Linked DNA regions of Homo sapiens. The protein of the gene in region 1 purifies or fractionates together with the protein of each later gene. This does not show direct contact. Each region holds a gene or a part of one and is shown in the gene's direction. Other genes may lie near its edges.

Region 1 (4,905 bases):
CATTGCTTGCTCACAGCGGTGTTTAACCTGTGCCTGTGTTTCGTGCACTTGCTGTAAGCTGGCGATGAGTCCAACCGCTCAATTAGATCCCGGCTGAGCTGCGTGTGGCAGAGATGCCTGCATGTGGCACTGTGAACCTCCTCTTAGATGCCTTCAGGAGGCATGTGAGGTCTGGTGGCCCCACCTTTGCTGATGGGAGGATGGATGAGGGGCCCCAGTGGTGGCAGCCTGCCTCTTCCCTGATAGGTTTCCACTGCTCCTCCATCTTGAGGTTTTAGCGTCTGTTGATGGCCATTGCCTAGATCCATATTTAGGGTTGCAAAATGGTGCTGGGCTTTGGCTTACCCCTTTTCGTAGCATAATTCTCCCCATACCAGGCTCCCTTGCATCTTATGCCTGTCTCTTCCAGCCAGCAGGTAATCACATCTTCCCTGTTTTTCTGTACTTCCTAGCATAGTTGTGAACTTGATTTTTCAAAAAAGAAGGAAATGTAAGTACTTCCTGGACTGAGGGATGACTGAGTTAGGACTGATTGTCCAGTGTCTTGAGTCAGTGAAAAAAGCAGGCCTCAGCTGCAGAAGAGAAGGCGGCTTTGGTACTGGGGCAGGCAGCCATGTGGAGCACTGGCCTGGTGGATGCAGCACCTGGTTTGTGGCAGGGACTTGGGTGCCGACGAGGCCTCCTTCCTTAGTGGTCCCCAGTAGGCTCAGCCAGGTCTGTCCCTCTTCAATAGGAGAACCGTCGTCGGGCCAAAGAGGAAGCCTCTGCCATGGAGGAGGAGATGGCGCTGGCCGAGGAGCAGCTGCGAGCCCGGCGGCAGGAGCAGGAGAAGCGCAGCCCCCTGGGCAGTGTCAGGTGAGCTCCGGCCTTCGGGCTCTGGCTGGGGTGGCACCCATCCCAGGAGGCTGCCAGAGACCAGGCCCTGATGCAGGGTCAGGATTTATGGGAAGGTGCATGTGTGAAGGCAAACTGGTGACAGAAGTTGCTTGTGCATTTGGTGGTCACATGGATGTGTGGGAGGAGTTCCTGACAGCTTTAAAGGAGCGACAGTACACCTGCAGGGATTCAGGGCCTGAGGCAGCCTGGAGTAGCAGGATGGGTTTCACAGCTTTACTCATGAGCGAGGGGGTTGGAAACCCCAGTGCAGTGGTGAGAAGTGCGCCTTGGGCTTCTGCGTCTGTGCTGGTCCCTGGAGTTAGGCCAGACTTGACAGGTCGCAGGCACAGGCCTCCGTGAGAACGCCCTCACTTCAGATACCAGCTGCAGGTGTAGACACCATCCTTACTGGTGTCCCCATGGACCCCTGCAGGTTCAGTATTTGCTAGAATGACTTTCAGAACTCCGGAGAGTGCCGTACTTACCATTATAGCTTTATTATACCAAAAAGGTACAAATTAGAACCAGCCAAAAGGAGAGATGCATAGAGCAAGGTCTGGGAGGGTCTCAAATGCGAAGCCTCGTTTGTCCTCAGGACCACGTCCCCCCGTGGCACACTGATGCATGACAGTATGACAGGTTATTGCTAGCCAGGAAGCTCACCTGAACTTCAGTGTCCAGAGTTCTTATCATTGGGGTTCTGTTACTTAGGCATGAATGACTGAATCATTGTCATGTGGTAGAGCTCAGCCTCCAGTCCCCCCTCCTCCCCAGAGGTGAGGCTGATAGCACGTGGCTCAGAGCACCAGTGCTAACCCCGGGGCAGAGAGGCCAGCCTGCCTTGAGTCATGTTGTTAGATAAACTCAAGGGGTTCACCAAGAGTCACCTCATTAGCATAATCTCTCAAACGAGGGCTGAGGGGCCCCCATGAATAGCAGACACTCCAGTCACTTGGGAAATTCCAAGGGTTTAGAGTTGGCTCCTAGGCACTGGGGACAAAGGCAGGCTGCTACACAGTTGGAGTGGCGCACGTGAGGTGGAGGGAAGCTGCTTTTGTAGCTCCCCTAGGGACTGTGGGAGGAGTTGTTAAAATCCGATCTAAAGCATATCGGAATGAGTGAGCTTCCTTGATTACATCGCCAGTCGAACATGGGGACGGCAGAGGAGTGAGAATGTGCCGGGGAGGAGATCCCTCGGCCCAGAGCTCCCCACCATGGGTTAGGAACAGTAAGTCCTGGGGCTCTGCATCCTCCTGCCCTCCTGGCTGTGGGTGAGGGCACGGTGTTTCCTGATCTCTCCTGCTGTGTCTCCAGGTCTACGAAGATCTACACTCCAGGCCGGAAAGAGCAAGGGGAGCCCATGACCCCTCGCCGCACGCCAGCCCGCTTTGGTCTGTGAGCTGAGGCTGTCCCCAGAGAGGATGGCAGCAGGTATTGGGTCCTCAGCCTTCTGGCGGGAGCCCTGAGGCTGCGGACAAAGCCCTTTCATCTGAGGACTTTCATCTGTGCATATCACGGCCCCCCAGGGCAGTTCCTGCTGGACCAGACTCTCTGGCAGAGGAGGTGGAGTTCTTCCATGCAGGAGCACGGCATGGCGGGAGCGGGGCTGCAGAGTATCCGAGGTGCTGCCGGGGCAGCGGGAGGTGGCTGGACCCATCGCATCTAAAACTGGCCCAGGACACTTGGTGTATGCGTGACTTGGCTGTGGCTGTCTTTTTTAATCCTTGTGTAAAGCAGCAAAAAAGACCTAAAGGGAATTGTAATTTGGTTATAATTCAGGATTTGGAAATAAATTTATTATTTGTAAAACATGACTGCATGTCTGACTTTTTCCTTCACCCTCTTAAATCATGTAATAAAGGTGGGGGGTGCAGAAGCCTGCCCTGACTTCCTTTGCATGGGTCGTCCTGGAACTCTGCCCTTATTTCTGCACAAGGCAGACCAAGCTCTGAGGGTGCCCAGCTGCTCCTGAGGCTGGGGGGCACTGGCAGGTCTGCCTTGATGGCCAGGTCATGGGAGGGAAGTGCGCAGGAGTCCACCCCAGCCTTCCCTGGGGTGGTTTGGCTGCTTGAAAGAGGTCCATGTGATTGCTCTGGATGGCAGAGGGTAAGGGTTGTCCATTGACTGAAAAACAGTGTAAAATGTTGCTTATTGATTTTCACGTAAAAGGTGACCCTTACACCAGAATCACCAGTCTTTTCTCTTTTTAAGCAGTCTCTTAAGTCTGCTGAGGTGGCTTTTTGGGTGTTTGGCCCTTTCCACTAACCATGGTGTATATGTTGTGATTCCTCCAGGCTGGGCTTCTGCCAGGTGTGCTGGTTGGCAGGTTCTGTGTTGGGGTTGAGTCACAGACAGGATTGGGGCTCGGAAGCACCTTGATACCAGGCCAGTGCCGGCGTGAGCCCTGTGGTGCGTGGCCTGCTGTGCTGTTCTGATCCCTTTCTCCCTCTGTTCCTGGGATTTGCCTTTCCATGTTTTATAACTCAATAAATGTTAAAATGTAAGTCAATTTTGTGGGTGAGCTCAGAAGCCTAGCTTTGCCAGCCAGCACCAGCTACCACCTCTGCCTCCATTCTTCCCTCTAGCCCCCTTGGGGGAATGCAGGTGGAAATGGGCTTCTCAGGGCTCTGTAGTGAAGAGAGGGCTGCCAGCACTTTGCCTAGGAAGCATTCTAATCTTGGCCCTAGGTTGGAGGACTAGAAGTTGGCTGATGTGTGACCTATTTACAGAATCAGGCAATGGAGTAGGAAAAAGATTGAGGTTCTACTTAACAGTTATTATTAATAAGCTGTGACCTTGGTCACAAACTCACTAAGTCCCTTAGATAAAAAAATAAGGTCAGAGAGGCTATTAAAACAATGGGTCCAACTCAACCATCGTATTTACAAGCAAGGAACACCTGGTAAAGGATACTTGGTACATGTGGGTGCTACAAGAGGAATGGAGGGGTCCCCTGCCCACAGCAGCTCCCCCTGAATTTGCCACGGTACTGGAGCTTCTGCTCAAGGCTCTGTCTCTTCCTGTGTTTCCAGTGTTTTTTTAAATTACAGATCCTTTCCATTCCGATCTTCCTTAAAGTTCCTTCGAGCTTTAATATTCTGATTCTCACTGTCTTTTCTTCAGATGGCAACTGATTGTTTTTCTAGAGGTACAAAAGCATACCTATGACATGGTCTCTAGCACCATGGCCCCGTTGTGGACTCCTGAGTCTGGCTGACCCTTGTTATTGTCTGTATTTTTTTAGTGTAACCATCCTAATGGCTGGTATCTCATTGCAGTTTTGATTTGCATTTCCCTAGTATTTAGTGGTGTTGAGCATCTTTTCATGTGCTTATTATTGGTCATTTGTTTATCTTCTTTGGAGAAATGTCTCAAGTCCTCTTCCCCCCCGCTTTTTTTTTTTTGCATTAGTAACTTTTTAAAAATTTTTAAATTTCAACTTTTATTTTAGATACTGAGGGTACATGTGCAGGTTCATTATATGGGTATACTGTGTGATGTGGTAGGTTTGGGGTATGGATCCCATCACCGAGGTAGTAAGCATAGTACCCAACAGGTATGTTTTCAACCCATTTCCCTCTCTCTATTCCTCCCAACCAAGTAGTCCACAGTGTTTATTGTTCCTATATTTATGTCCCTGTGTGCTCAATGTTTAGCTCCCACTTATAAGTGAGAAGAAGTAGTATTTGATTTTCTGTTCCTGCAAGAATTAGCTTAGGATTATGGCCTCCAGCTGCATCCATGTTGTTGCAAGGGACATGATTTCATTCTTTTCTATAGCTGTGTAGTACCCCATGGTGTGTATGTACATTTCCTTTATCCAGTCCACCATTGCTGGGCACCTAGGTTGATTCCATGTCTTTGCTATTGTGAATAGTGCAGCGATGAACATGCGAGTGCATGTGTCTTTTTGGTAGAATGATTTATTTTCCTTTGGGTATACGCCCACTCATGGGATTGCTGGGTCAAATGGTAGGTCGATTTTAAGTTCTTTGAGAAACCTTCAAACCTTTGTTCACAGTGGCTGGA
Region 2 (8,380 bases), on another chromosome or scaffold:
AGTTGCATTGTTAAGGCAGTTAATAATCAACTGTACCTAATTGGGCATTCACTTGTGGACCTCTTTTCTGCCAACTAAAGAAAAATTGAGCTGCTTTACTCCTCTGCCTTCCCACCCAGAAACCGTGTCAGCATGGTTGCCTGGCTACCTGCTCATGAAGGACTTGATTAATAGCAAATTGGCAATTTAACGAGCCACTTCCATGATCTCCAAAGAAACCAAAATACAAACACAATATTTAATCTTGCCAACCGAAGACGATGTGACTGCATGAAGTGAGTATGCTTTTTTGCACTGTTTACAATAACTGGGGCATTAACTTACTGATAATTCCATTTAGGTAAAGAGGGCTTTGTTGAAGTCTAGCTGTCTGAGTATATTTGTGTCTTGATGAATGGTGACTTAAGTAACTCCCCATACCTCAAGATGTAAATATACCTTTTAATCTGTAAGTTAAAGCCTAATTAATTATGAAAATGAAAACTAGAAAAAAATTAAAAAGCATACTCGCTACAATAAGCATAGAGGACCACATTTTAAATAACATCCTCTAAATTTATTTTTAAACTATGGCAAGGCAAATTTTGGGTCATGCAGATTTTTGTGGGTTGATGGCCTTTCTACAGCCACATCCACAAATAAATAAAATTCCATGAACTACAATGCAAAATAATAAGAGTGTCCAAAAATATTGAAGATCAAATTATACAGTGGATTGCCCTAATAAAACACTGGTTTTTTCTATTAAGGTGGATATAAAAGGTCATGTTGAATTTTTTCATCTTAAGTAGTGTGATAGGTTCATTCATTTGTCTTAGCTCTTATTTTAGATGTAAATTACATTTTGGTCATTAGTAACTGGTTTATTTTCAGGATTTTTCTGGCTTTCTAAGACTTGTGTTCTATGATGACATATACTACTTTTAGAAGACATTTTTCTGATAACATTTTCATAATCCTTATCTTTAGGTTCACAGTTCCGGAAGTGCAAACATCATAAATAATTATTGATATGTGTTAAACAGTTTTTTTTGGTTTGATGGTTATTTTTGTTTGGTAAGTCTAAAGTATGGAAGAGTGGTATGTGATTTAAACAACCATGCCTCTGTGTTTCAGGTGCCCTTCGTTTTAAAAGAAAGATTATTGGATTAAAAGATGAGTTTTACAACCGCTACATAATGAAAAGTTTTTTGTTTGAACCAGTAGTGAAAGCATTTCTCAACAATGGATCCCGCTACAATCTGATGAACTCTGCCATAATAGAGATGTTTGAATTTATTAGAGTGGTAGGTTCTGTATTTTTAATTAGAATTTTCATTTTAATTGTTTGAGAAAATTGAATATGCATTACCTAGTATTTTGGCTTGAGATGATAATATTTGGAGAGATTTAAAAAAAAAAAAAAGTACTAAAAGCCTGTGAGAGATTTGAGTCAAGCTACATCTTACCTCTCAGCAGCTACAAATCTGTTATAGCAGGGGTCCTCAACCCCTTGGCCGCGGACCGGTCCATAGCCTGTTAGGAACCAGGCTGCACAGCAGGAGGTAAGCTGCTGGCAAGCAGGCATTATTACTGCCTGAGCTCTACCTCCTATCAGATCAGCAGCAGCATTATATTCTCCTAGGAGCATGAACCCTTTGGTTAACTGTGAGGTGGAACAATTTCATCCTGAAACTGTGCTCCCCCACTCCCACCCCAGTTGGTGGAAAAATTGTCTTTCATGAAACCAAAAAGGTTAGGGACTGCTGCTTTGTAGGATGGTCACAGTAATCATTTTAAGAAAGCAAAACTACACTTGACAGATAAGCATTTGAATGTGTTTTTCTTAACTTACACATTTCTAAAGACCAATTTCATAATACTCTTTATTCTCTAGTAATGTAATAAGCTAGTGGTTCTCATTGATGCTGTGCAAATTTATCTGGCATGGCTTTTTGTTTTGTTTGTTTCTTAGAGACAGGGTTTTGCTATGTTGCCCAGCTGGGCTCAAACGATCCTCCCACCTTAGCCTCACAAGTAATTGAGACTGGAGGTGCATACCACAGTACCTGGATGTCGTGCTTTTTTAAAAGCTGGGATAAAATAATATAAAACATTAAACTTGCTATTTTAACCATTTTAAAGTAAACATTCACATTGTTGGCAGCCATCACCATTATTCATCTCCAGAACTTTTCTGTAACATGCTTTTTTTGGGGGGTGAGGGAGGGGGGTGGGGACAGAGTCTCACTCTGTCACCCAGGCTGAAGTGCGGTGGCATGATCTCGACTCACTGCGCCTTCCACCTCCCAGGTTCATGCGATTCTTCTGCCTCAGCCTCTAGAGTAGCTGGGATTACAGACATGCGCCACCATACCCGACTAATTTTTGTATTTGTAGTAGAGATAGGGTCTCACTATTGGCCAGGCAGGTCTCAACCTCCTGACCTCAGGTGATCTGCCCACCTTGGCCTCCCAAACTGCTGGGATTACAGGCATGAGCCTCTTCACCCGGCCTGTGACATGCTTTTAAAATACGCATGGCTGTTGTGTGTTCTCTCTTGTAAGTGGGAACTAAACTTTGAGTACACATGGAAATAAAGAAGGGAACAACAACAGATACCAGAGCCACTTGAGGGTAGAGAGTAGGAGAAGGTGGGGATTGAAAAACTACCTATTGGGTACTGTGCTTACTACCTGGGTGATGAAATAAGCTATACACCAAACCCCTGTGACACGCAGTTTACCCGTATAACAAATACGCACATGGACCCCCTGAACCTAAAATAAAAATTAATTAATAAAACATATATGTCCATGGCCAGGGATAGTGGCTTATGCCTGTAATCCCAGCACTTTGGCAGGCCAAAGTGGGAGGATTGCTTTAGGCCAGGAGTTAGAGACTAGCTTGGGCAACATATCAAGACCCCATCTCTACAAAAATTTTTTGTTAAAACTTAGCCCCGTATGGTGGTGCATGCCGATAGTCCTAGCTGCTCAGGAGGCTGAGGTGGGAGGATTGCTTGAGCCCAGGAGTTCAAGCCTGCAGTGAGCTATAATCATACCACTATATCTCAACCTAGGTGCCAGAACGAGACCCCATCTCTAAAAAATACACATACCCAGCCCGCACATCAGAATCAGAATCACCTAGGGCAAGACCTGGGCATTTACTTTGTAAAGACCCATAGATAGCTGGGTGCAGTGGCTCGCACCTGTAATCCCAGCACTTTGGGAGGCCGAGGCAGGCAGATCACCTGAGGTCGGGAGTTCGAGACCAGCCTGACCAACACGGAGACACCCCATCTCTACTAAAAATACAAAATTAGCCAGGCGTGGTGGTGCATGCATGTAATCCCAGCTACTCTGGAGGCTGAGCCAGGAGAATCGCTTAAATCCAGGAGGCAGAGGTTGCAGTGAGCCGAGATCATGCCATTGCACTCCAGCCTGGGCAGTAAGAGCAAAACTCCATCTCAAAAAAAAAAGACCCATAGATAAATTGGGGACTACTATAGTAGCCAGTGTACGTTATTCCCATTTTTTATTGTTTGGTTATCTCTAAGATTATGTAGTTTTATTAAATTAAGCTATTTTTGGTGGGTATGAATTGATTAAATTAAGCCTCATCTTGCTAAAATGACATTTTCCTATCATTTTTTCATTACTATTCTTTTCTGTAGGAAGATATAAAATCATTAACTGCTCATGTAATTGAAAATTACTGGAAAGCACTGGAAGATGTAGATTATGTACAGACATTTAAAGGATTAAAACTGAGATTTGAACAACAAAGAGAAAGGCAAGATAATCCCAAACTTGACAGGTAAATTACCATATATTTAAACCTATTCGTTCAGCATCAAGTCGTATGGTAGTGGCTTTATTGTTTATTTGATATTATTTGGCTTGACAAGGAACAGGGAAATCAGCAGATAGCAAATAGAAATTGTAGCTTCCTGTAAGGGTCAACATAAATGTTTCCCTGAAGATTAGGCTGGTTATTAGTATAATACCTCAGGCATGTATCAGGCTAGATAAGGGAAAAAAAAAAAAAAAGACCAAACAGTGGAAGTGAGGCTTCATGTGTTCCAAATAAAATCAGAGGATTATATTACTTGCTTTGAATTTACAAGTTACTAAGGTTACAAATTATTATTTAAAATTTTGTACATTAATCTAAATACCTGGATTTACATTGATACTTTAATATTTGTAAATTTCATGTTAATTCCCTATGTTAACAAGTTTAATAAGTCATCTGTAACAGTACAATTAAGTCCATATATGATTGTATTTACTCTTTCTTCCCTACTCATAGTATGCGTTCCATTTTGAGGAATCACAGATATCGAAGAGATGCCAGAACACTAGAAGATGAAGAAGAGATGTGGTTTAACACAGATGAAGATGACATGGAAGATGGAGAAGCTGTAGTGTCTCCATCTGACAAAACTAAAAATGATGATGATATTATGGATCCAATAAGTAAATTCATGGAAAGGAAGAAATGTATGTTGGAAAAAAATGGGCAAGAGAAAATTAAGGCTTTCTTACTCTAGATTTATTCTTATTTCTTGACAAAATGATTATTTGCTTGGAAGGTGTGATGGCATACGGTTTAAAGACTCTATTGCTTTATGGGATGTGACTGAATAGCAGTGTTGTGTAGGCATAAACTTAAGTTTTCTTAATTTGAGTTGAATAAGGAATATACTATTTCAGGAAGGGTAGGGATACTAAATATGATTCTGAAGGTTTCAATTCTTCTCTGGGGTAAGATCCAATGAATGGAATTGTGGTTAGTATTTTGGTAAGCTTCTTTTATAAATTGAACTTCAATGTTTCTACCCAGCGTAGTAAGCTAGTTAAATGTGTTTTAGTGTTACCTCATTTGGGGAAATTTAAAAAAGAAGTATGGGGGACGACTATTGACAGTATTCTCATTTTTAGTAAAAGAAAGTGAGGAAAAGGAAGTGCTTCTGAAAACAAACCTTTCTGGACGGCAGAGCCCAAGTTTCAAGCTTTCCCTGTCCAGTGGAACGAAGACTAACCTCACCAGCCAGTCATCTACAACAAATCTGCCTGGTTCTCCGGGATCACCTGGATCCCCAGGATCTCCAGGCTCTCCTGGATCCGTACCTAAAAATACATCTCAGACGGCAGCTATTACTACAAAGGTACATTCTTGACTCCCATTTTGCCCCCTTTTTTCCCAATTGAAGCTTTCTCAACAATAATTTTGACTAAGATTCCCTTTGGTTACTGCCACCTAGAACTGATTTAACATCCCTGAACTAGAGGATGAGTCCCCCCCACCGCTTGAACTTATATAAAGGTTGAGAAATTTCTGAAAGTTTTTTTTATGACCAATGCAAGTCTGCATATAGTGTGAATTCTCACTTGGGTATTTTGGATTTTAGAACTGAAACTTCAAATTTGTATGTCAAAACATTTACAGAAATGTTCAAGGTTTTCAGTTATTCTTGAATAAATGTTCCTAACTAATACCCAGATAAAGCCTTTGTGGGGAAATGATAATCTAAATATCTGGGTACTTCTAACTTTACTTTGCCAGTTAAGGTTTGTTAAGAAAATTAAACATCTACTATCACTAACATTTCATATAAGAAATGAACAAGGGCTGGGCACGGTGGCTCACGCCTGTAATCCCAGCACTTTGGGAGGCTGAGGCGGGCAGGACACGAGGTCAGGAGATCGAGACCGTCCTGGCTAACGTGGTGAAACCCCGTTTCTACTAAAAATACAAAAATTAGCCAGGCGTGGTGGCGGGCGCCTGTAGTCCCAGCTACTCTGGAGGCTGAGGCAGGAGAATGGCATGAACCTGGGAGGCGGAGCTTGCAGTGAGCTGAGATCGCTACTGCAACAGCGAGACTCCATCTCAAAAAAAAAAAAAAAAAAAGGAACAAAATCTTAAGAAAAAATGTAGAAAACATGCAATCTCAGAATAAAACCAGTTTTGGGGGCTCCTTATGCCAACCACCCTTTTCTTTTGAGACATAATATATTGATTATTGGGCTAGCAGACTAGCAGTTAAAAGACTGGCATTTGGGAATCACTGATCTAAATCAGACACGTAATGCCCATTCAGTCTTTTTTTTTTCTGGCGTGAGCTGGAGACTCCTGACGGCTAAGAAGTGAATCTGAGACACGCTGAAATGAAGAGGCAGGCTTGAGAGCAGAGCAGTGTGAATTTTTCCCTTAGCATCGAAATAAAGCAAGCAGCAGCCAGGCGCGGTGGCTTACGCCCGTAATCCCAGTGCTTTGGGAGGTCCAGGGGGGTGGGTCACGAGGTCAGGAGATCCGAGACCATCCTGGCTAATACGGTGAAACCCCGTCTCTACTAAAAATACAAAAACATTAGCCGCGTGTGGTGGCGGGCGCCTGTAGTCTCAACTACTCAGGAGGCTGAGGCAGGCGAATGGTGTGATCCCGGGAGGTGGAGCTTGCAGGGAGCTGAGATGGCGCCACTGCACTCCAGCCTGGGCGACAGAGTGAGACTCCATCTCAAAAAATAAATAAAGCAAGCGGCAGTGGTTTCTGGTGAAGGAGCAGGGCTAAAAGGAAACCCAGATGAAATGATGAGGAAGAGTCAGGGTAGAACTGCTTTCCTAACCTCTAATAAATAGAAAAAGCCTGTCTACCCTCATTTCTGGTGGTCTCTTTATCTGCTGCAGTTTTCATTTTGGTACTTTTTTTTTTTTTTGACAGAGTCTCAGTCTGTCACCCAGGCTGGAGTGCAGTGGCGTGATCTTAGCTCACTGCAATCTCCACCTTCCAGATTAAAGCGATTCTTGTGCCTCAGCCTCCCAAGTAGCTGGGATTACAGATGTGCACCACCACACCTGGCTAATTTTTGTAATTTTATTAGAGACAGGGTTTCACTATGTTAATTAACAGGCCAGGCTGGTCTCAAACTCCTGTCCTCATGTGATCCCTCCGCCTCAGCCTCCCAAAGTGCTGGAATTACAGGCACAGGCCACCATGCTCAGCCTCATTTTTATACTATTTTAGACTTTATGTTTAAAAAAATTTTAAGATGCTATTAAGTCTTGAAACAAACATTTTTCATTCATTTTCTAACTCCTGGGTAATTTGCTAGGATTATAAACTACTTAAATTTTTTTGCTTTAGTTTGGGTGCAGTGGCTCATGCCTGTAATCCCAGCACTTTGGGAGTCCAAGGTAGGTGGATCGCCTGAGGTCAGGAGTTCAAGACCAGGCTGGCCAACATGACAAAACCCTGTCTCTAGTAAAAATACAAAAATTACCCAGGCGTGGTGGCGGGCGCCTGTAATCACAGCTACTCGGCAGGCTGAGGCAGGGAGAATTGCTTGAACCTGGGAGGTGGAGGTTGCAGTGAGCCGAGATCGCACCACTGCACTCCAGCCTGGGTGACATAGCGAGACTCCGACTTGGAAAAAAAAAATTTTTGCTTTAATTCTAATTAACTCAAAGTTTTCCCTTATTGTAAAAAAGTATGCATGTTTATTACAGGAAATTTAGAAAATATGTAAACATAATGAATTGAAGTTTAACACAGTCCCACCACCCAGAAATAACCACCGTTACTATGTTGGTAGGATCTATTTTCTTTCTCCAGCCAGAAAACACCAGTGTTTTTATATGTTTTATTTTCTGTTCTTTAAATAATCCTTATTTCTTAACAGGGAGGCCTCGTGGGTCTGGTAGATTATCCTGATGATGATGAAGATGATGATGAGGATGAAGATAAGGAAGATACGTTACCATTGTCAAAGAAAGCAAAATTTGATTCATAATAATGGCAACGGCCTAGGATCAGTACCTGTTGAAAAAAACTGGTTCTCCACCCCTCCCCCATACAAAATCCACAACAAAGCGCAGTGGTCTCTTGTGAATGACTGACACAGATCAGCCTCTTACACTTGACTTCTGCTCATCAAGTGCCAATTCAATGGAGCAGGAGGAGGGGATATCATATATTTAGGGGAAAGACTTAAGCCTTTGAGCTCTCCAGCTTGGACCACACATTGCCCTTTTCTCAGGGAAGGAAATGGAAACAAAAAGCCAACAGGGCAGGGGTTTTGTAAGTGGAACTCTGGATTGACTGGTCAGTTGCTACAATCAGAATATGCTTTCTTGGACCATGTTTGAGACTCAGAAGAATGGGCCTTTCTGCCATAATTCTTCACTAGTCAAGAATGCCAGCAGTTTCTTTGTATAAAGAGACCTGCCTTTAAAATCATACATTCTGAACATTTTAGTCAAGCTACAACAGGTTTGGAAAACCTCTGTGGGGGAGGGGCGAGTATAAAGTTTTCCTCTTTTTTAACTGTTCCCTTTGCCCTTCAAACTGCAGATATTTTTTTTTTTAAGTGGGGACTTCTCCCTACTTGATTAAA

The links.
Region 2: the proteins of DHX38 (region 1) and PPP4R3A purify together in Homo sapiens (co-immunoprecipitation; 3 studies listed by BioGRID and IntAct, with this or other methods). This does not show direct contact.

What each region holds. Positions count from the first base shown.
Region 1 is NC_000016.10:72,110,223-72,115,127, forward strand, and holds the end of DHX38 (pre-mRNA-splicing factor ATP-dependent RNA helicase PRP16), read left to right. Parts: intron 1-733; coding exon 734-855; intron 856-2,190; coding exon 2,191-2,275; 3' UTR 2,276-2,690; downstream 2,691-4,905. UniProt on the Homo sapiens protein: Probable ATP-binding RNA helicase. Involved in pre-mRNA splicing as component of the spliceosome.
Region 2 is NC_000014.9:91,458,156-91,466,535, reverse strand, and holds part of PPP4R3A (serine/threonine-protein phosphatase 4 regulatory subunit 3A), read left to right. Parts: intron 1-80; coding exon of another isoform or gene 81-82; exon of another isoform or gene 83-103; intron 104-119; exon of another isoform or gene 120-275; intron 276-1,116; coding exon 1,117-1,286; intron 1,287-3,658; coding exon 3,659-3,801; intron 3,802-4,296; coding exon 4,297-4,487; intron 4,488-4,928; coding exon 4,929-5,155; intron 5,156-7,666; coding exon 7,667-7,777; 3' UTR 7,778-8,380. UniProt on the Homo sapiens protein: Regulatory subunit of serine/threonine-protein phosphatase 4. May regulate the activity of PPP4C at centrosomal microtubule organizing centers.